Regions from separate parts of the Homo sapiens genome. Here regions 1, 3 and 4 are each linked to region 2. Evidence: fine-mapped expression QTL. A gene starts in region 2. Each other region holds a variant in brackets. All regions are shown on one strand. Distances are from middle to middle.

Evidence for each region. PIP is the estimated chance that this variant, and not a neighbour inherited with it, causes the effect.
Region 1: its variant is fine-mapped to the expression of MMUT in whole blood (TOPMed, PIP above 0.99). The same link has a PIP of 0.9 or more in lung.
Region 3: its variant is fine-mapped to the expression of MMUT in whole blood (INTERVAL, PIP above 0.99). The same link has a PIP of 0.9 or more in breast, skeletal muscle, subcutaneous fat and transverse colon.
Region 4: its variant is fine-mapped to the expression of MMUT in blood mononuclear cells (TOPMed, PIP above 0.99). The same link has a PIP of 0.9 or more in whole blood.

Annotation. Positions count from the first base shown.
Region 1 is chr6:49,371,762-49,377,346 of GRCh38, reverse strand. No RefSeq gene overlaps it. Among named protein-coding and RNA genes, the nearest start is that of MMUT, 89 kb to the left of the region's middle. The variant T/A (reference allele first, on the strand shown) is at 3,365.
Region 2 is chr6:49,461,053-49,466,637 of GRCh38, reverse strand. It overlaps MMUT (methylmalonyl-CoA mutase), which reads left to right and starts at 3,385. Exons shown (of 13, transcript NM_000255.4): 1 at 3,385-3,535. CENPQ (centromere protein Q) reads right to left here and starts at 3,268. Exons shown (of 9, transcript NM_018132.4): 1 at 3,185-3,268. RefSeq lists enhancers at 2,402-3,301, 3,646-3,715, 3,302-4,202.
Region 3 is chr6:49,209,160-49,214,744 of GRCh38, reverse strand. No RefSeq gene overlaps it. Among named protein-coding and RNA genes, the nearest start is that of MMUT, 250 kb to the left of the region's middle. The variant C/A (reference allele first, on the strand shown) is at 3,147.
Region 4 is chr6:49,129,323-49,134,907 of GRCh38, reverse strand. No RefSeq gene overlaps it. Among named protein-coding and RNA genes, the nearest start is that of MMUT, 330 kb to the left of the region's middle. The variant C/T (reference allele first, on the strand shown) is at 2,437.

The sequences.
Region 1 (5,585 bases), 89 kb after region 2:
TGGTCATTTGTATAATTTTGCTGGAGAAAAATTGCTTCTATATACAAAACCCAAGGAAGAATATTGCATCTGTAATATCTAAATACATAAGTAACCTCTTTTTGTCCTAGAATCTTAAAAATTGGCCTTTTTTGATTTCCAACTTTTAATTTCAGGGGCACATGTGCAGGATGTGCAGGTTTGTTACATAGGTAAACATGTGCCATTGTGATTAGCTGCACAGATCATCTCATCACCTAGGTATAAAGCCCAGCATCCATTAGCTATTCTTCTTAATGCTCCACCCTTCCACAGGCCCCAGTGCGTGTTGCTCCCCTCAATGTATCCATGTGTTCTCATTATTCATCTCCCACTTATAAGTGAGAAGATGTGGTATTTGGTTTTCTGTTCCTGAGTTAGTTTGCTGAGGAAAATGGGTTCCAGCTCCATCCATGTCCCTGCAAAGGGCATGATCTTGTTCCTTTTTATGGCTGCATAGTATTCCATAGTGTATATGTACTACATTTAATTTATCCAGTCTAACATTGACAGGCTGGATAAAGCCACAATTTGCAATTTTTTGATAAGAGTTTTCTCCTCAATTCCTTCCTAATTTTACAAATTTATAAAAATGAGTTCTAGCATAGATTTTTAAAATTCACAATCTGTTTGAAATTACCAAATACATTTATCAACTTTCAATCAAGGTGAACAGATTATTCTAATGAATTTTTTTTCTCTAAGTCTCTGCACATTTTTCTCTCTGAGGAAGAACAATTATGTCAGGCTTCTGACAAGCTTATGACTGACAATTGATTAATATTATTTTTAGTGTGTTTCCAATGCTGGTCTATGATGTGTTCTGTCATAGAAACTTTACTTTTCTATATCTTCAGATCTTTTTTCCACAATCAAGAATAGATACTTTGGGATTTTATTTATTGCACACCTAGTAAACTGGCTAATCTGGTATCTTCATAGGTTACGCATATCTAATTTAAGGGATAGTACTTGTTTCTTTCATGCAATGAAGACTGCAAGAATATTATATATTTTTAAAATTCTTGTATGTTTTTAATTGATGAAAAATGTCTAATTAATTATGTATAGATTGCAAACTGAATTACTGTAAACTCCTTAAGGGTGTCAACTGTATAACCTTAGCAGTCAAGCAGAATGCTGGGCACATTTAAATGGCTCAACAAAAGTGTCAACAGATGATAAAGGAAGGATGATTTTCTGAAAAAAATATTACCAGTATTGCAACCTTGTGCCATATCATGCATCACTGGGCATTAAGAGACAAATGAGAAAGCTGGGATTGAAATATTAAAGAGATATTAAGAATTGACATCATTGTCCAAGCAAGAGAGTATATTCAAGTGGAAGTAGGATATTAGGCAAGAATTATATTTAGTAATCGCAAATATAATTCAAGATAGCAAGGGCTACAGCCAACAAGCAAGGCAGTCAGATTGACATTTCTTTAGCCATTTTTCTTAATTTCCAGACAAATATAAATCCATCCTTTTTGATCATGGTTGGAACTCACTGTTTTTTTAAATTGCATGAAGTTGTGGTATCCTACAATTTTATAACAGTCTTTGTTTCTAATACACCACTTTCAAGCTTTCAATGATTTGCAAATGAAGAGACTACATATATTTCTTTTGACAGTGTCTGAAGTGTTGGTATAATGCTTAACAGGAGTCCCTCATCAAGTGACTATTTTACATAATTGAATTATCTAACTAGAATCAGAGGTGAAAAGCTATGACACAGTGAAATGTGAAATTATTTTGCAGATCATAAACAGCTTTGCAAGTATGCAATACCATCATTATGAGTTCAGCAATCTGTCAAAGAAAATATTAATACTGGCAAAGAATTTACCTACAGGGTAACAGAAAATGAATACTTCTTATTGATCATGTTTCTAGCAAATTATTAAAACAGCATAATTCAGAGCATCAGGCACAAACTAATTTTGTGAATAAAGGCCCTTAGGCCACATCCTCTCTATTAAGGAAAGCTGGCCAACATTCCAGATGTACGGTTAGTTTTTAATGGGAGGGTGGTGTGAGTAAGTGGGGGATCCTGTCTCAAAGAAGTCAAGTGACATTACCCGACACTCATGCATTGACCTTCCATGAGTGGCATGGTATTGTATTTATTATAAAATGGCAGCAGGTTTTCTGAGATTAAGTAGAAAAATTGGTAAGTATTTAACTACTATCTAGTGACACAACTCTTTAAAAACATCAAATAGAGAACTGAGGCCAGAAAAATAGCAATAAAAAGTCAGTTTGAAAATTTTAAAAAAATCTTCAAATAAACAGCATGAAAAGAAGGAAACTGGGAAAATAAAATCTGAGATATACTGAGTAAAATACCTTTGGATTGAGTAGAGCTATTAGCGGGAAAAAAATAAGGCAAGAATTTGAATGAAGCTCATAAGAACTGAAATGCTTGGTTTTAAAAGTTGAAAAAAGAGGCCTTTTAAAATATTCTTAGGTAGCTGATTATGAATTAAAGAGGAAACATCACATTGAATCTAAGACTTTCTCTTTATAAAGGGAATGAAAGCTTAGCAGATTAATATTAATGAACAAACTGAATGAATGAATAAATGAATGAATGCCTACTCTCTATACACAGGTGTAATTTTAATTAGCTGTAAGAGTTAACTTGTCAAGGCCTGTGAGATTGTAAACTAGTTGAAATTGTTAGGCTTCCTCTCCATCCTTTTTTTCAAGGCCTATTTTTCCCTTATCCATTGTATGTGACTTTTAAAAAAAAACAGACTTATCCTGAACTTTCAAAAATGCAACTAAATAATAAACTCACTCATGATTTCTTCATTCAATAAATATATTTTGAGTATCTATCATGACCTGACACTGTTTCAGGTGTCTGTAATTTAACAGTGAGAAAAACAGATAGGATATCTGACCTCATGGAGCTCATAGCTTAGTCTAGGAATTGTATATAAAATAAATAATTTCCTAAATGAATATATAAGTATATAATTATAAACCATCATGTGTACTGTATTAGTCAGAGTTCTCCAGAAGGACAGAATTAATGGAATAAAAGAGTTTCTTAGGTATTTAATGAGTTTATTAAGTATTAACTCACACGATCACAAGTTCCCACAATAGGCCTGCTGCAGGCTGAGGAGCAAGGAGAGCCAGTCCAAGTTCCAAAACTGAAGAACTTGGAGTCTGATGTTCAAGGGTAGGAAGCATCCAGCATGGGAAAAAGATGTAGGCTGGGAGGCTTTCACATTTTCTGCCTGCTTTATAATCGCTGGCAGTTGATTAGATGGTGCCCATCCAGATTAAGTGTAGGTCTGCCTTCCCCAGCCCACTGACTCAAATGTTAA[T/A]CTCCTTTGGCAGCACCCTCACAGACACACCCAGGATTAATAGTTTGCATCCTTCAGTCTCATCAATTTGACACTCAGTATTAACCATCACATGTGCTATGGAACAATATGATTTCTGTGAGAACATATGACTGGGTTGGTTAGGGAAGACTTTCATAAGAATATAGTATCTGAGAGAGAGCTGAAGAATTAGCAGATAATAACTATTTGGGGAAACAGGCATTCATAATAATTTATGGAGAGTGTTTTAGGCCAAGGGCACAAAGAGTAGGGCCTAAGAAGCATGTTAAAATACTTGCTTATTAATGAATTATATTGTATTTTCTCAAGGATTGTTTTTATTTTAATGGAGAACTTTTCCCCTTCTTTGACTGTATTATAAGTGATCTAACAAATTTTTCTCATTATAATTCAAGCAGCTTAGAATTATACATGTTAAAAATATATAATAAAATGCATAATTATATACATTATTTTATAATTGTGAGTGGAAAATCGTTATCTCAATTTCCTAAAAATACTTATTATTGCATTGTTATGCATTAAGACATAAATTTCATACATGTGCACACACACTTTATTTTCTCTAAAATGGTTTCATACTATATGCAGCAATTTGCAACTTGCTTTTTTACTTAACAGTATGACTTGAACACTTTCCCTGCCAGTATGTATAGTCATTATTCATCTATTTTATGTACACATGTCATTCATATACATATGATATGTGAATATATAAATTCATAAATGTTAATACGTATGATACATGAATTCATATATAGTATATATGTGATGTGTGAGATATTGTTACATATATACTGACTATATCATGATTTCTATAACCACTGTTGTATAAATGCACATCTAGATTGTTTACAAGGTTTTTTTATTTTGGGTGATGCAGCCAAACATATTCTTGCACACAAAAGTTTTTGGATCTGTATGAGTAATTTTTTAGAAAAAAGTTTCTGGAATTAGAATTACAGCTTCAAAGTACAAATTTTAAAAATTTGACAGCTATTATAACCAAATTCTATTCCTTTACAAGAAGACTTTTTATTAGCTAAAATGTACAAGGATAGCTTGTACATTTTCTGCACACTTGACAAACTAAATATAATTATCTTTAAACTTTTAACAGAGGGCTCTGAAATCGGAAGCATCTTCTGTACAAAATTGACTGCTTTTATAATTCAGTAGGTAGTATCATTGTTTGGATCAGGATATACAAAAAATAAAAAGTGGTAGGTATTGTGCCAAAGTAGAGAGGGCTTGCCTAGTATGGAGACATTCAAATTCGAATCCAAATACCACCACAGCCAAATGCAATATAGACCTGGGCTGGAGTCCATCAGCTGGAACTCACAGAAGTAAAGAGTCTCAAGAAGAAGATAACTGGTCCCAATTGTTCATTGTCCTTAAATCATTACAATTGGCTGTCCATCCAACATCTCATATACAGAAGGTGGGCTTTGTCTCTGAATCAGGCTGCTACACCCACAAATATGAAAATTCCTTGTTAAGAATTGCGAGGTTGGAATTTCACTTGCTGACATCTTAGAATGTGGTAAATTTTTTCTTACTCCTAGAGCAGTCAATCAACATAATAGAGGAAAAATAATACATATTTAAAGGGATCTATTATGCTTCAATTAAATTGCATGTTCAATAATGAAACAAATGGCCAGGTGCGGTAGCTCACACCTGTAATCCCAGCACTTTGGGAGGCCAAGGAGGGCGGATCACTAGGTCAGGAGTTAGAGACCAGCCTGGCCAACATGGTGAAACCCTGTCTCTACTAAAAGAATACAAAAATTAGCTGGGCAGGGTGGTGTGCCCCTGTAATCCTAGCTACTTGGGAGCCTGAGGCAGGAGAATTGCTTGAACCCAGGAGGCCGAGGTTGCAGTGAGCAGAGATTGCACCACTGCACTCTGGCCTGGGCGACAGAGCAAGACTCGGTCTCAAAAATAAAATGAAATAAAAGAAACAAACACTTTAATAATACTTACTCTGTATAATGCTTTGTACAGATCCAGCATATTAACTAAGAAAATGGATTAATTACCTTTCCAGTAAAATTCCATGAAACTGATGAGTTTTTAAAAATTCTATTCCTTTTTGTTTTGTAGAAACATAATATAATGTTTCAAATGACGGTGTTCTGTCTTATGAATTGATTGAATTCAATTCATTCAAAACATTGAAAAGTAGGACTGTTTT
Region 2 (5,585 bases):
GTATTTTGTCCCATTCTTAGATCCAAGGGAAACCACAGCTTAGTGATAGTGCACAGGTAGAGACAGATATGAAAATAATTACTATGTGTATTTATAAATGTTATAAAGAGGCAAGTGAGCGAATGACTGTCTTAAACTGGTTTGTGCTATGGGTAAGAATGTACAGGCATAACTCTTTTTATTGTGTTTCACTTTATTGAGCCTCGCAGACACTGTATTTTGTTGTTGTTGTCTTACAAACTAAAGGTTTGTGGCAAGCCTGCACTGAACAACTATATTGATGCCATTTTTCCAACAGATTGTGCTCACTCTTCACATTTCTGTGTCATATTTTGATAACTCTCACAATATTTCAAACCTTTTCATTATTATATCTGTTATGGTGATTGATGTTACTCTGTAATTGTTTTAGGGCACCATGAACCATGCCAATATCAGACAGAGAACTTAATAGGTAAATGTTGCGTTGTGTTTTGACTGCTCCACCAACTGGCTGTTCCCTGCCTCTCTCCCTCTCCTTAGGCCTCCCTATTCCCTGAGACACAATGATATTGAAATTAGGCCATTTAATAACCCTACAATGGCCTCTAAGTGTTCAAGTGAAAGCAAAAATCACACCTCTCTCACTTTAAATTAAAAGCTAGAAATGTTTAAGCAAGGTGAGGTAGGCATGTCAAAAGCCAAGATAGGCTGGAAACTACACCAGTTAGCCAAGCTGTGAATGCAAAGGAAAAGTTCTTGAAGGAAATTTAAAGTGCTATTCCAGTGAAGACATGAATGATAAGAAAGCAAAAACAGCCTTATTACTGATAGGGAGAAAGTTTGAGTGGTCCGGGATTGAAGATCAAACTAGCCACAACACGCCCTTAAACCAAAGACGAATTCATGGCAAGGTCTTAACTCACTTCAATTCTATGAAAGCTGAGAGAGGTGAGAAAGCTGTAGCAAAAGAGCCTGAAGCTAGCAGAGCTTGGTTCCTGAGGTTTAAGGAAGTAAGCTATCTGCATAACATGAAAGTACAAAGTGAAGCAGCAAGTGCTGATGCAGAAGCTGCAGCAAGTTATCCAGTTCTAGGTAAGATAATTGATGAAGGGGCTACACTAAACAACAGATTTTCAATGAAGACAAAACAGCCTTCTATTGGAAGATGCTATCTAGGACTTTCATATCTAGAAAGAAGTCATTGCCTGGCTTCAAAGCTTCAAAAGACAGGCTGACTCTCTTGTAGGGGCTAATATGGGTGGTGACTTGAAGCCAATGCTCATTGACCATTCTGAAATATCCTAGGGCTCTTATTCTTTTAAATCTACTCTGTCTGTGCTCTGGAAATGGAAGAACAAAGCATGAGTGACAGCACATCTGTTTACAGCACGGTTTACTGAGTATTTTAAGCCCATCTTTGAGACCTACAGCTCACAAAAAGATTCCTTTCAAAATAATACTGCTCAATGACCACGTACTTGGTCACCCAAGAGCTCTGATAGAGATGTACAAGGAGATTAATGCTGTTTTCATGTCTGCTAACACAACATCCATTCTGCAGCCCATGAATCAAAGAATAATTTTGACTTTCAAGTTATATTATTTAAGAAATACATTTTGTAAAGCTATAGCTGCCCTAGACAGTGATTCCTCTGATGGATCTGGGCAAAATAAATTGAAAACTTCTGGAAATGATTCACCATCCCAAATGCTAGTAAGAACATTCATGATTCACGGGAGGAGGTCAAAATATCAACATTAACAGGAGTCTGGAAAAAGTTGATTCCAACCCTCATGGATGACTTTGTAAAGGTCATGACTTTGTTCAAGACTTCAGTGGAGGAAGTGATGAAAGATCTGGTGGCAATAGCAAGAGAAATAGTGGAGCCTGAAGATGTACCTGAATTGCTGCAATCTCATGATAAAACTAGTGGAAAAGAAGTTGCTTCTTATGAATGAGCGAAGTTCTTGAGATGGAATCTACCCCTGGTGAAGATGCTGTGAATATTCTTGAAATATCAACAAAGAATTCAGAATATCACAAAACCTTAGTTGCTAAAGCAATGGTAGGGGTTAAGAGGATTTACTCTAATTTTGAAAGAAGTTCTACAGTGGGTAAAATGCTTTCAAACAGCATCACATGCTACAGAGAAATCTTTAGTGAATGGAAGAGTCAACTGCTGTACAAAATTCATTATTTTGTTATTTTAAGAAACTGCCACAGCAACTCCAATCTTCAGCAACCATCACCCTGATTGGTCAACAGCCATCAACATCAAGCAAGACCCTCCACCAGCAAAAAGATTAGGACTTGCTGAAGGCTGAGATGATTAGTAGCATTTTTTAGCAATAAAATATTTTAAAATTACAGCATGTAATTTTTTTTTACACATAATGCTATTGCACACTTAATAGGTTACAATACAGTGTAAATACAACTGTTATATGCACTGGGAAACCAAAAAAATCGTGTGACAGGCTTTATTGGTCTGGAACCGACCCCGCAATATCTCGGAAGTATGTTTGTACATTATTCATAGAAAAAGTATTATTCTAATAACATTTTGAAATATTTAGCCAAAAAGTAGAAAAATGAAGCATCCAAGGGAAAACAGTAAAACTCGGACGGCAGGAAAGCTCGGAAAAAACACAAAAAACCTGGCGTGTTCAGGGACAGGATAATCCAGCGAGGCTTTTAATGTGTATAGGAGAAGTGAAAAGAAATAAGGCTGGTACAGTAGTTTGCCGCCAGACTATATGCTTTAGGAGAGAGGGAGGCATTCTAGGTTGTCTTGTTTTTCTTACCAGCTTGTTGATACTCATGGGACTCAATTACCTCAATTTAGACCTCTATGTGGGCACAAGAGTGAGTAGGACTCCTGGAGAAACACAGACACTAATGTCCAAGGCTGCACTTGACTTCACTAGTGCCCGCGGGAGAAATTTAGCAATGAGGATGAGCCATGAGGATGATTCGGGAGAAATAGGAAGTATTCATGGCTTTGCTCCCTCCCCCCTAATCAAACATCTCAATCTCAGGATCCTAAGGGCAGATCTTTTAGGACATCGGGCATTTCCCCGTAAGCAATCCCCCCTCGCTATCCTCAAATGCAAACTGCGGAGTCTGCCACAAACGCGTTGGCTTTAAAACTCATCCCTGAACTTTAGATCCACCCAGCCGGTTAAGGATATCACGACTCACCACTGATTCTTCTTGCACCCTTCTGAGAGCCGCGCTTAGAGTAATTCGCGCCCAAACATTCGTAAACAGAGGAGACCCGGAAGTGGGTGGGAAGAAAGCGGAAACGGGCATCTAACCCTACCCCTAAACGTCATCAGGAATGCGCCCATGAGAGCGCTATTAGATTGGCTGGAGGGAGGGCGGTGTCGGCCTACGCCCCCAGAGTCGTCCGGCTGACGCTGGCGGTGGCGCGGTTTGTGTGGGCTTGGTGAGGGCGGGGAGGCCTGGCTGTGTGGATGTCTGACAGGTGAGGCGGGGGACGCAGAAGTGCAGCCGCCCTCTCCCACAGCGGAGTCCAAAACAGGCCTACCAGTGAGTAGGACGTACACCTTTCAGATCGCTCCATTCTTCTGGCTCCTGTCCCTCCTCTACCCCTGTATTTTGAACTTTTGTCCTTTCTCTCCCGCTCTGTCCTTTACTTCTGTCTTCTTTACCTTCCTACTGTGACGGGATCCCACTCTCTGCCTTCTCCTTAGGTTTAGATTTTCACTTCGACCAACCTCTAGTTTTGGGCGAAGTCCCTGGCAATTCGGAGGTACTTCTGGAAAGAAGGTGCTTTTAATACTTTAGGGGCCATGTCGGTATCTTCTTTGGCCACTTAAGCACCCTGAACTGTTCCCGTTGGCAGAGGTCACTTTTTGTATGGTTCCAAAGGGATGCGCCTGCTTCATGGCTGCCTCCCTTCTAGGTTGTGGGTTATGTTATTGTCAGGGTTTTTCTAAGAGTTTTCGGGAATAAAAGTGATTTTCTGTGTGTAAACAGGATTAAGAGTGTAAACAGTGTTAAGAGTGAGAGGTAGAATAGAAAAGACAGGTCTAAATTGACATAAAAGCTTACATTACTAACTCGTTCTCAGTTTTATCTAGAAAGAAGGTGGTCTTAGGGAAGCTCGAAGCCCTGGATAACGTATGTGTGTAAAGTTTTAAACCACTTGATGATTTTCTGCCAATATAATTTTGTGTTTAATGATGTACTTATGCTAATATCAAATATAATTTTCATGCCCTATGTTTCCATCTCCAAACCCAACTAGTTGAACATCAAAGTACCTTCTTGAAGTATTAATGTGCAATCATACGTCAGCAGCCAAAGCTTGAAACTTATTGGTTCAAGAAATCTTTTTCTCACTGATTTGTTTTTGAGGTGTGGGGGTGGGATTAATCATTGCTCTTTAACTCATTTTAGTTGTCAGTAACATATTTGCTTTGCATGTTGCTTCTTTGAATGCTTGAGGCCTCTCTTGATGGTCTTCTGAGAAAATTCAGAGGTCGTATTGCCATCCGCAGTAGTTGTGTTTTTATCTAAAAATGGTGTCTGTTTCCAGCCTCCACCAATTCACATGTGATTTTCAGGAAGTCACTTAAACGGGGCTCTTTCCTATTAGTTGTTCAGATTTAGGAAAGCCCACGTGAAATGAGTGTGATATTTCCTGCCAACAGTTTAGTCTCAGGTGGTTTTCAAATTACCTTTTACAGGATTACTATTGAAACAGTTTAGTTGTTGCTTCATTATTTTTTTCATCCACCTTTTAAGCTAGTAAATGTAGTGGATGGCTTGCAAAAAGATGGATGACAAGGACCCCATGGATTTAAAGAATAAAAATCGTGCTAGTATTAAAAAAATGGAAGGTTTTTTTGTTTTGTTTTGAGACGGGGTCTCTCTCTGTTGCCCAGGTTGGAGTGCAGTGGCACGATCTCTGCTCACTGCAACCTCTGCTTCCCGGGTTGAAGTGATTCTCATGCCTCAGCCTCCTGAGTACCTGGGATTACTGGTGTGCGCCACCATGCCCAGCTAATTTTTGTATTTTTAGTAGAGACTGGGTTTCACCGTGTTGGCCAGGCTGGTCTTGAACCCCTGACCTCAGGTGATCCACCTGCCTCGGCCTCCTGAAGTGCTGGGATTCCAGGCGTGAACCACCATGCCCAGCCTTTTTTGTTATGTTTCCATTTAGACTTTGTTCTATGTACTTTTTACATAGTTGAACCTGTTGCACTTACAATTACGTGTCTTGAGTCTTTTACTTACTACTTTTTGAGTTTGTTTCTCTTTTTTTGGGAAACTATGCATAACACATTTTTAACTTTTTACTTATACATATATTTACAGAAACTGCATAAAACATAACTGTATAATTTGATGAATTTCCACAAACAGAATATATCTATGTAAGTGGCAATCAGATCAAGACCATTACCCCCAAAAGCCCCTCTCTTGCTCCTGTTGTATTCTAGCAACCATTAAGTAACCATTCTTCTGACTTCTGACATCAAAGATTAGTTTTGCCAGCTTTCTAAACATATTTTGATAACTACATGAAATTCTATCATTTGTATATGCTGTAATTCACTTATTCATATGTTAT
Region 3 (5,585 bases), 250 kb after region 2:
CTATTTTGGTTACTGTAGCTTTGTAGTACAGCTTGAAGTTAGCTATGCCTCTAGCTTTGTTCTTTTTGCTTAGGGTTGCTTTGACTATTTGGGCTCTTTTTTGGTTCCATGAGAATTTTAGAATTTTTTTTTCTAATTCTGTGAAAAATAACATAAATAATTTGATGGGAATAGTGATGAATCTGTAAATTGCTTTGGGCAGTGTAGCCATTTTAACAATATTGATTCTTCCAATCCATGAGTATGGAATGTTTTTCCATTTTTTTTTATTGTCTATAATTTCTTTCATCAGTGTTTTGTAGTTCTTTTTGTAGAGATCTTTCACCTCCTTGATTAGACATATTCCTAGGTATTTTATTTATTTAGTTTCTTTTGTGGCTCTTGTTAATGAGGTTGTGTTCTTGATTTGCTTTCAGTGTTAATGTTATTGGTGTATAGAAATGCTATTTCTTTGTGTATGTTGATTTTGCATACTGAGACATTGCTGAAGTCATTTATCCAGGTCTAGGAGGCTTCTGGCAGAATCTTCAGGATTTTCTAGGCATATAATAATATCAGAGAAGAGAGATCATTTGACTTCTTCTTTTCCTCTTTGCATGCCTTTTGTTTCTTTCTCTTGCCTGATTGCTCTGGCTAGGACTTCCAGCACTACATTGTATGTGAGTGGTGAGAGTGGACATTCTTGTATTGTTCCAGTTCTTAAAAGGAATGTTCCCAACTTTTGCTTGTTCTGTATAATGTTTTCCATAGCTTTGTCATAAATGGCTCTTATTACTTTGGGTTATGTTCCTTTGATGCCCAGTTTGTTGAGGATTTTTATCACGAAGGAATTTTGAGTTTTACTGAATGCTTTTTCCTCATGTATTGAGATAATCATATGAGTTTTGTTTTTAATTATATTTATGTGGTGAGTCACATTTATTGATTTGCATATGTTGAACAATCTTTGCATCCCTGGAATAAAGCCCATTTGATTTTGATGAATTATATTTTTTTGCACTGCTGGATTTTCTATTTTTTTTAATGTCTAATAAAATTTGGCTATGATCATCTGGTCAATGGCTTTTCTGGTTGGTAGGTTTTTTTAATTACTAATTCCATTTCATTACTTGTTATTAGTCTGTTCAGGCTTTCTATATCTTCCTGGTTCAATCTTGGGAGGTTGTGTGTTTCTAGGAGTTGTCCGTTTCCCCTAGAGCTTCTAGTTTGTGTGCATGGATATGTTCATAGTAGTCTCTGAGGATCTTTTGTATTTCTGTGTGATGGGATGTGATGTCATCTTTATCATTTATGGTTATGCTTATTTGGATCTTCTTTTTTTCTCTTTGTCAATCTATTTAGTGGTCTGTCAATTTTGTTTATCATTTCAAAGAGCCACCTTCTCATTTCATTTATGTATGTTTTGGTATGTTTTTTAATCTCAAATTCATTTTATTTTGCTCTGATTTTAGTTATTTTTTTCTTCTTCTTGCTTTCAGATTGGGTTGTTTTTGTTTTTTCCACTTTCTTTTCTATTTTCGTTCTATTAACTTCAGGTTAGGTTGTTAATTTGAGATTTTTCTATCTTGTTGATATAAGTGTTTTGTGCTATAAACTTTCCACGTAACACTGCTTTTTCCGTATCCTAGAGGTTTTGGTGTGTTATGTCTCCGCTTTCTTTTGTTTCAAATTTTTTTTTTTTTGCCTTAATTTCATTCCTTACCCAAAAGCCACTCAAGGGCAAGTTGCTTAGTTTCCATGTATTTTTGTGGTTTTGAGAATTCCTTTTAGTATTGATTTCTATTTTTATTTCACTGTGATCCAAGAAGATGCTTCGTATGATTTTGATTTTTTTGAATTTATCAAGGCTTTATGACCAATCATGTGGCCAATCTTGGAGTACATTCCACGTGCAGATAAGAATAATGTATATTTTGTGGTTGTTGGGTGGAGTATTCTCTACATGTCTATTAGGTCCAATCAAATGTCAAATTTAAGTCCAGAATTTCTGTTAGTTTTCTGCCTTGATGATCTCTCTAATGCTGTCAGTGGGATGTTGAAATCCACCACTACTATTGTGTGGATATCTAAGTCTTTTCTCAGGTCTACAAGCAATTACTATTATTTTTTAAAATCCAAGTGCTTTAATTTTGGGTGTGTGTAAATTTAGGATATTTCAACCTTGTTGAATTGAATCATTTATTATTATGTAATGTCCTTCTTTGTTCTTTTTCACTTTTGTTGGTTTAAAGTCTGTTTTATCTGATACAAGAATAGCAGCCCTTGCTCTTTTTGGCTTTCCATTTGAGTGACAGTCTTTCTCCATCCCTTTACTTTGAGCCTATGAGTGTCATTACATGTGAGATGGGTCACAAAAACAACAGAAGGAAAGGTCCTATATTTGCATCTAATTTGTCGTTCTGTCTTTTAAGTGGAGCATTTAGGCCATTTACATTCAACGATAATATTGATATGTGAGGCTTTGTCCCTGTTGCAGGTTTGCTAGCTACTTACTTTGTAGCTTTGATTGTGGAATTGTTTAATAGAGTTCATGAGGCCTGTGCCTACACGTGCTTTCTGTAGTCTCTGGCTTGAAATTAAAATGCCTGCTTAGCTGCCACTGTCAGATCGCCAAACAATGACTGATGTTGTATGAGGCCAGATTAAAAAGGGAATCCTCCTCTTGTTCCTGAGTCTAGGAAAATGCCTGCAGCTTTCCCCAGGGTCTTTCCATCTTTTCACCTCTCCCCAAGTTAGCTCCAGGGCTTGAGAGAAATAGGGTGCTCTCCCTTTGCTTGGGTTGCACAGATTCTTAGTGGATAGGTGATTCACAGAGAGAGACTGACTGCCCCTCTCACATACTGGTGTTTCACTTACTTCTGTTACCCAAATGTTGTCATAGGGACTGTTTGCCCACCTTCTCCTCTCTAGGTCTGGTTGTCCTTTGCTATTCTGGTGAATAATTCCAGTCTTCTTTCTTGAAGTAAAACTCTCAGAGTTAATTTTTCTGCACATTTTTCTGTTTATAAGTGGCTGATGCATGCTAAAAGCTGCTATCCACCATGTTAGTGAAAAAGAAGCTTAGTGATTTTAATAAATAAATGTCATCTTAAAAAGATCTAAAAGTTAAGAACAGGGCAGGCAGTAAGTTAACATATCTGCTATAC[C/A]CTAAAATAATTTTTTAATTAAGCACAGAATGTATTATCTTGTACTTTCAACATGGAACTTACTTCTCTGAGGAAAGACACAATGATGATTCTCATGAAAAACAGTAATTATTTTATAGGGCAGGCATGGGGCTAATCACTGCTTGTTGTACTAGAATGTCAGCCCAGACCTTGCTACTCGTAGGCTTGCTTCTTCACATCCTAAACTTTTTGAACTATTTCTTCACAGAAGGGAGACAGAGAAAATAAAAAGGCACTGTGATCTTCCTGGGAGATGAAGCCATGTTTTATTTCACTTTCTAGCCTTAAGTATCTAAAAGGTTGTAGTAAGTGTTCAAGAATAGAAAGTAGAAAGAAAGGAAATAAGATCCAGTATAGGAAAAGCTATAAGGAATTGTGAAGAAGCATAAATAGAGAAGGAGAAAATGAGCCAGAAATGGAATATTATGTAGGAAGAAATATGTTTCTTATATATTTTTCTTGGTATAAAGTATGAACTTGTAAAAGGGTGAAAAGAGAAGAACAGAAAGGAAAGGAAAGGAAAGGAAGAGAACTGCAATAGAGAGTGATGAGTGAGGAACACAACAGGATACGTGGGTCATGTCTAAGGATCAGGTTTGGGTGAACCTGACAATCAAATATACTGGGCTTATGTATGACCAATAGTCATTTCTAAAGGTAGCACATGCCACTTGCAGCTCATATGGGAATTGATATCTACTTATTCTATTTAAAAAGAATAATCTAAATTATTCTTTAGATTAATTGCCAAACTATGGGTACTGCACTAATTCATTTTCAGGGCACTCCTTAATTAGAAAAGGAATGGAAAATATCACAAGAGACATGAAATTATGCAGTTGAGAGCACAGAAGGGAGATGGTAAATCTGTTGCCATTTAAATTGCCCAAGTCTATTTCTTCTTTCTCAGATGAAACGCAAGGCCCAAAGATCTTTCATCACTGTCTCCAAGACAGGGAGAAAAGGTTTCAGGGCAATTGCACAAATGAGCATGGGTAACACTGCCTGAGAGGTTGTTAGAAGGCTAACGTAAGTTTAACACTCTCTTACCCAGAATGTTTGAATCTTCTCCATAAGCAGCGATACAGACTTTGCTTGAACACCTTTACCTCTGTCAAATTCATTAGCAAATGTATGAAAATTTGCTAACATTCGAGACTGCCTTTTCCATTTTTGGACAATTCTGTTAAAAATTTCTTCGTCTTCCTTTCTTCTTCCTTGATTGAGCTGCCATCTGTTTCCCTATAACTTAAACTCATTTCTTTTAATTTGACCATCTGTGTTCACACTGAACAAATTTGTCTATTTGTTATGTCCACTCTTCCTATGTCTTCTCTTCTTCCAGTTTTTGTCAAATGTTTTTCACATATGGTTCCCACAATATTCAGGTTACATCTTATTTAACACCTTATGCTATACTCTTAAATTTATGTTTTTTCTATACATATATCAGTAGAGAGGAGTTAAATACTCAGTCATCAAACTTGAAATCCTATTGTAAGATATTTTCTCTGAAATAAATTAGTATGTTGTACTTTTCTACTATATTTGCAAACAAAATAACAAATGCAGCATTCTTTTGCTCTTTATTAAAAATATAAATATTTTTAATGATGCAATTTCATTGAGCCTCCTAATGTTTAAAATTTCTGTATCTCAGTTTTTAAAAATATAGAGAATATCATGTCTTGCTGAAAATAATCAAAGACACATAAGAGTAGTATATGAAATTAAAAATTAAATCTATCATGCCTTTAACTACTTACATACTACAAAATGAAAAGACATTACTAAGAAAATTTTAGGCATGATCAAACTATAGGTATGCCCCCTGAATTAGCAAAATTCATATACCCCTCTTATACTACTAAACATGGACCTATTTTATAAATTACCTCCCTCAGTTACAAAGAAAGGAAATTAATAATAACAGACAAAATTGTTTATTCAATCAAGGATAGAGGAAGAATAACCCCGCAAAATGGGAAACAATTTCTGTTTTGTTAATTTTGGATAAAAGGTGTTTTTGGCACTGGTAGGCACTTTTATAAATCCCTGCCTCTTCAAATATCTGTGTCAAAAGCAAAAATTGCAGTGGACAAAGTTACACAAGTAAGGAAGACTTTCTTCAAGGCTATTGCAATAGAATAGAAACACCAGAGCTCAGTCTGAGCTCAACTCCACAGAAAGACATGGTAGAAGAGGAGTGTGTGTGTGTGTGTGTGTGTGTGTGTGTGTGCGTGTGTCTGGGACTGAAAAGGATCACTGGCTATCTGTGTTTGCTAACTGACCTTACCCAAAGGAAAAGTAAACTTTTTTTCTCATCTTCATGACAGAAGGTTCTTGTAAAACCATGAGCAAGGAGCTAATCTAAGTCAGGTTTCTATTCTCCCACACTAACTGGTAGAAAGTGGGGCT
Region 4 (5,585 bases), 330 kb after region 2:
GGAATTTGCTTTCCCTGTTAACTCTAGAGTTAACATAAAGTATGTGGTTGATTCATAAAGGGCCTTAATAATGTACTTAGCTCATATTGATTCAAAAATATATGCTGGGGTATTCTCCTAAGGCTGGAATGCATTGCCAGATGTCTTCCTGTTTTCCTCATTACAAAAATTGCAGCAGCTCATATTTTCTTTAGACTACACAAATATACCTCCTTTGATTTTAAAGTTTTTTTTTTAAATTTAGGAGTTATTAAATAGAAAACCATGATTACTGTGTAAATAAGCTTTATGAATAAGTAACTAAAGATGATCATGCTGGATGCTCAGACCATAGCACTTTAGATTCATTCTTCCCTCCCTGCTGATGAAGACTGGAGAAGGAGAATGATTTCTCCCACAAATTATAACAGGTTAATAGTGTCTGTTAAAAGAATATTTCAGATGCATGCTAGCATTATTTTGTTTCCATGATATAGATATCATCTATGATTTATGACTAAATCTCAAGTGCATCTTATAGGACCTACATATTTTAAATGAATCTGCTTCAATCAGAAATCTCATATTTATATATGATCATTCATTTAGAATTATGTGATATAGTGAAATGTTCTCTAATTTGCTACCAGTTCTTGAAAGGACATTATCAAGAGGGTGCTGTAGCTCTTAAAAATATAATTTAGTAAAAGATCCTGTATTCTACTAAAATAGAAGATTTCATTTATTTGCCATTAGATTATTAAATTATAAATCTCTTTAAATGAAACTCATTTGATCAATGGCTTTATACACTATACAATACTTGTCATGAACGTGACTATTAGTATCAGTAGGCCTGTTGTGTTTTCTTTAATTTAAACAAAAATTTAAACTTTTTAAATTTTTTTATTCCAAATTTTGTTTTACATTCAAGAGGATACATGTGCATGTTTGTTATATGGGTAAATTGCATGTCCTGGGGATTTAGTGTACAGATTATTTCATCACCCAGGTAATAAGCATAGTACTCAATAGGTAGCTTTGTAATCCTTACCTTCCTCTCACCTTCCACTCTCAAGTAAACCCCAGAGTCTATTATTCCTTCTCTGTGTTCATGTGTACTCAGTATTTAACTCCCACTTATAAATGAGAACCTGCGGTATTTGATTTTCTGTTCCTATGTTAATTTACTTATAATAATGCCCTCCAGCTCTATCCATGTTGCTGTAGAGGACATGAACTCATTCTTTTTATGGCTGCATAGTATTTCATGGTGTATGTGTACCACATTTTCTTTATCCAAGAAAACTCAAATTTTTGGATTTTAGCCAAATCCAGCCCACTGCCTCTTTTTGTAAATAAAGTTTTATTCAAACACAGCCACATTGGTTTGTTTCCTTATAATGTATGACATATTTGGCACTACAGTGGCAGAACTGATATTTGTGACAGAGACTGGATGACCTACAAAACTGAAAATACCACCTGCTTCTTTACAGAAAATGCTTGTCCACTGCTGATCTAGATTATGAAATATCTCCATTTTATACATTAATATATTTACATGGCTTCCATGACATTTTGCAGAGAACCATGTACCACAAATTCACGTATTCCTGGTTTGATTATCATAAGCACTCCTAGACCAGGGTCATTTGCTAAGAGTATTATATCAATAAGAACTATCATGCTAGAAAATATTAGTTTATTACACAAGGTCTGTTTTCAGCATGTTTAAAAGATTGGATTGTGCCACTTGTTTTCTTTCTTTCTTCAAAGTTTTCTTCTGGAAAGAAGAGAGAAATAAATTGCGTGCCAGCTGCTTAATATGCCTAGTGTTCCATTATTGGAACGCAAAGAATGTGGAAGTTATTTATATCCTACTGCTCAAGGTCATCACCAAGGTCTGATTGCAAAAATTCAAAAAATTGCCACCTCAGGCATAAATGGATTAATCTTTCTTTCCCAGGCCTTGATTCTCCTGCGTCAGAGATAGGTCCATAAAAAATACCAATTTTGCATAAATATTTTAACAATGATACATATTTTCAGAGTGCCTCCACATATATACTGTTTTTCATATGCCTAATCTCAAACACCCTCTAATTAAGATAGGTCAGTCATATTTTTAACATATTCTAACATATTAGAAAGCAAGTTCAGGAATATTAAATCATTGTTCAAAGCATGTATCACAAACTATTCTGAAATTTGGATTTTTCACTCTTAGCCTTGTATGATTTCTGTCACACAACAATGAATATATATTTCATTATAATAATTCTGTAAGACACACTTAAAGGTGTAAATACATTGAAGGCACAGGACTTAGAGGAAGTGAATGAAGTGAGGTTGTGTATCTGATAGGTTAAGAGTAAAGATTCTGGAGGTAGGGTACTAGAGATCTACCACTTACAAAATGTTTTACCTCAACAAGTTCTCCAAGCCTCAGTCTCC[C/T]CATATGGCTGTCATTTAGGATAAAATGACAGCCATATATACAGCCATCCATCAATATCCACAGGGGATTGGTTCTAGGACTTCCCATGGATATCAAAACTCACAGATATTCAGGCCCTTATATATACATTGGTGTAGTACTTTCATATAACCTATGCACATCTTTCTATACACCATGAATCATCTCTAGATTATTTACAATACCTAATACAATGTAAATGCTGTGTAAATAATTGTTGTACTGAATTGTTTAGGAAATAATAAAAAAAATCCTGTACATGTTCAGTACAAAGCAACTATCCATTTTTTTCTCCCTAAATATTTTCAATCAATGTTTTGTTGAATTCACAGATGCAAAGTCCATGGATACAGAGACCAGATTGCATACTGCTTTGATAGGGGCCTGAATAGAGAGTGAGCATTAAAGAAACAATAGCTATCATATTGCAGGGTAAAACTCTCAAAATTAGTGAGATAAATTATAGGAGTAAAACACTGACTCACACTAATTTAGAGTAACTGAAATGAAGATGATCTTAATTATAAACTATTTTAATGCAGTTTGAGTTTATTTCAGTGAACAGTCATGCCGTAACATAGTGGGATAAGAATGAACAAGTGAAGTGTAAGGTATGTGAAAAGTTGGATTTTCAGATTTCTAAAGTAGCATTTAATCGAGAACTTGACCCCATCAAAATATGCATTTCATGCAAACACATGGAGATTAATAAAATCTTATTGAGTGTGAAGTTATTCTGGTCTTTTGCCTATTTCTCCCTCTACACACTTTTCCTGGATTTTCAGCTATTCTTATATATTTAATTTTCATTGATGTTTGACTCCCAGCCTAGATCTGTCTATCCCTGGAAATGCAGGGCCATGTATTCCACTGCTGTCTCAATATCTCTATTTGCATATTTCACAGACCCTTCAAACCCGACATCTCCAAACTAATCTTATCACCTCCATCTATTACATTTTTCCAAAGAAAAACCTAGAAAACATCCTCAACTCCTTATTTTCACTTATTCTCCATTTGCACTTCATCACCAGGTTCAGTTGATGTCACCTTATTTTTCACATAATTCCATATCTATTGTTACCAACCTAATCCAGTTCTTTATCATCCCTTACCTACCACAGTCTCCTAATTGGTCTGTATGTGTGACCTCTTGCTTCTCCACTAGCAATTGATATTTCTTTATATTTCTAATACAGTGATCTTTTCAAAATAGATATATACGAATCAAACAGTCAGCAAACTTTTTCTAAAGAGTCAGGTAGTAAATATTTTAGGCTTTGTAGGTCATATGATTTCTGTCATAACTACTCAACTATATTAGTCCATTTTCATGCTGCTGATAAAGACATACCTGACCCTGGGTAATTTATAAAGAAAAAGAGGTTTAATGGACTCACAGTTCCATGTGGCTGGGGAGGCCTCACAGTCATGGTGGAGGGTGAAAGGTATGTCTTACATGGCAGTAGCAAGAGAGAATGATGGCAAAGTGAAAGAGATTTCCCCTTATAAAACCATCAGATCTTGTGAGACTTATTCACTACCACAAGAACAGTATGGAGAAAACCACTGCCATAATTCAATTATGTGCCACCAGGTCCCTCCCACAGCACATGGGAATTATGGGAGCTAAAATTAAGATGAAATTTGGGTGGAGACAGAGCCAAACCATATCATTCCACCTCAGCTGCTCCCAAATCTCATTTCACATTTCAAAACCAATCATGCCTTCCCAACAGTCCCCCACAGTCTTAACTCATTTCAGCATTAACCCAAAAGTCCACAGTCCAGAGTCTCATCTGAGACAAGGCAAGTCCCTTCTGCTTATGAGCCTATAAAATCACAAGCAAGTTAGTTACCTCCTAGATACAATGGGGTACAGGCATTGGGTAAATACGGTTGTTCCAAATAGGAGAAATTGACCAAAACAAAGGGGCTACAGGGCCCATGCAAGTCTAAAATCCAGCTGGGCCGTCAAATCTTAAAGCTCCTAAATGATCTGCTTTGACTCCTGGTCTTGAATCCAGTTCATGCTGATGCAAGAGGTGGGTTTCTGTGATCTTGGGCAGCCCCACCCCTGTGGTTTTGCAGGGTACAGTCTTCCTCCTGTCTGCTTTCACAAGCTGGTGTTGAGTGTCCATGGCTTTCTCAGGTGCATGGTGCAGGCTATTGGTGGATCTACCATTCTGGGGTCTGGAGGATAGTGGCCTTCTTCTCACAACTCCACTGGGCAATGCCCCAGTGGGGACTCTGTGGGGGTGCCCACTCCACATTTCCCTGCTGCACTGCCTTAGCTGAAATTCTCCATGAGGGCCCCTTCCCTGCAGCATACTTCTGCCTGGACATCCAGGCATTTCCATACATCCTTTGAAATCTAGGAGGAGGTTTTCAAACCTCAATTCTTGACTTCTGTGTACTTGCAGGCTCAACACCATGTGGAAGCTGGCAAGGTTTGGAGCTTGTACCCTCTGAAACCATGGCTCCAGTTATAAGCTGGCCCCTTTTAGCCAGAGTGGCTGGGACACAGGGCACCAAGCCCCTATGCTGTACACAGCAGGGGGACCCTGGGCTTGGCCCAGGAAATAATTTTTTCCTTCTATGCCTCTGGACCTGTGATGAGAGGGGCTGTTGTGAAAATCTCTGACATGCCCTGGAGACATTTTCCTCAGTGTCTTGGTGATGAACATTTGGTTCCCTGTTACTTAGGCACATTTCTGCAGCTGGCCAGAATTCCTTCTAAGAAAATCGATTTTTCTTTTCTACTGCATCATCAGGTTGCAAATTTTCTGAACTTTTATGTTCTGTTTTCCTTTTAAAACAGTATGCCTTTAACAGCACCTGAGTTACCTCTGAAATGCTTTGATGCTTAGAAATTTCGTTCACCAGATACCCTAAAACATCTCCCTCCCTTAACTTCAAATTTCCACAGATCTCTAGGGCAGGGCAAAATGTCACCAGTGTCTTTGCTGAAACATAGCAAGAGTCACTTTTACTCCAGTCCCCAAAAAGTTCCTCATCTCCATCTGAGACCACTTCAGCTTGGATTTCGTTGTCTATATCATTATCAGCATTTTGTTCAAAGTGATTCAACAAGTCTCTAGCCAGTTCCAAACTTTCCCACATTTTCTTA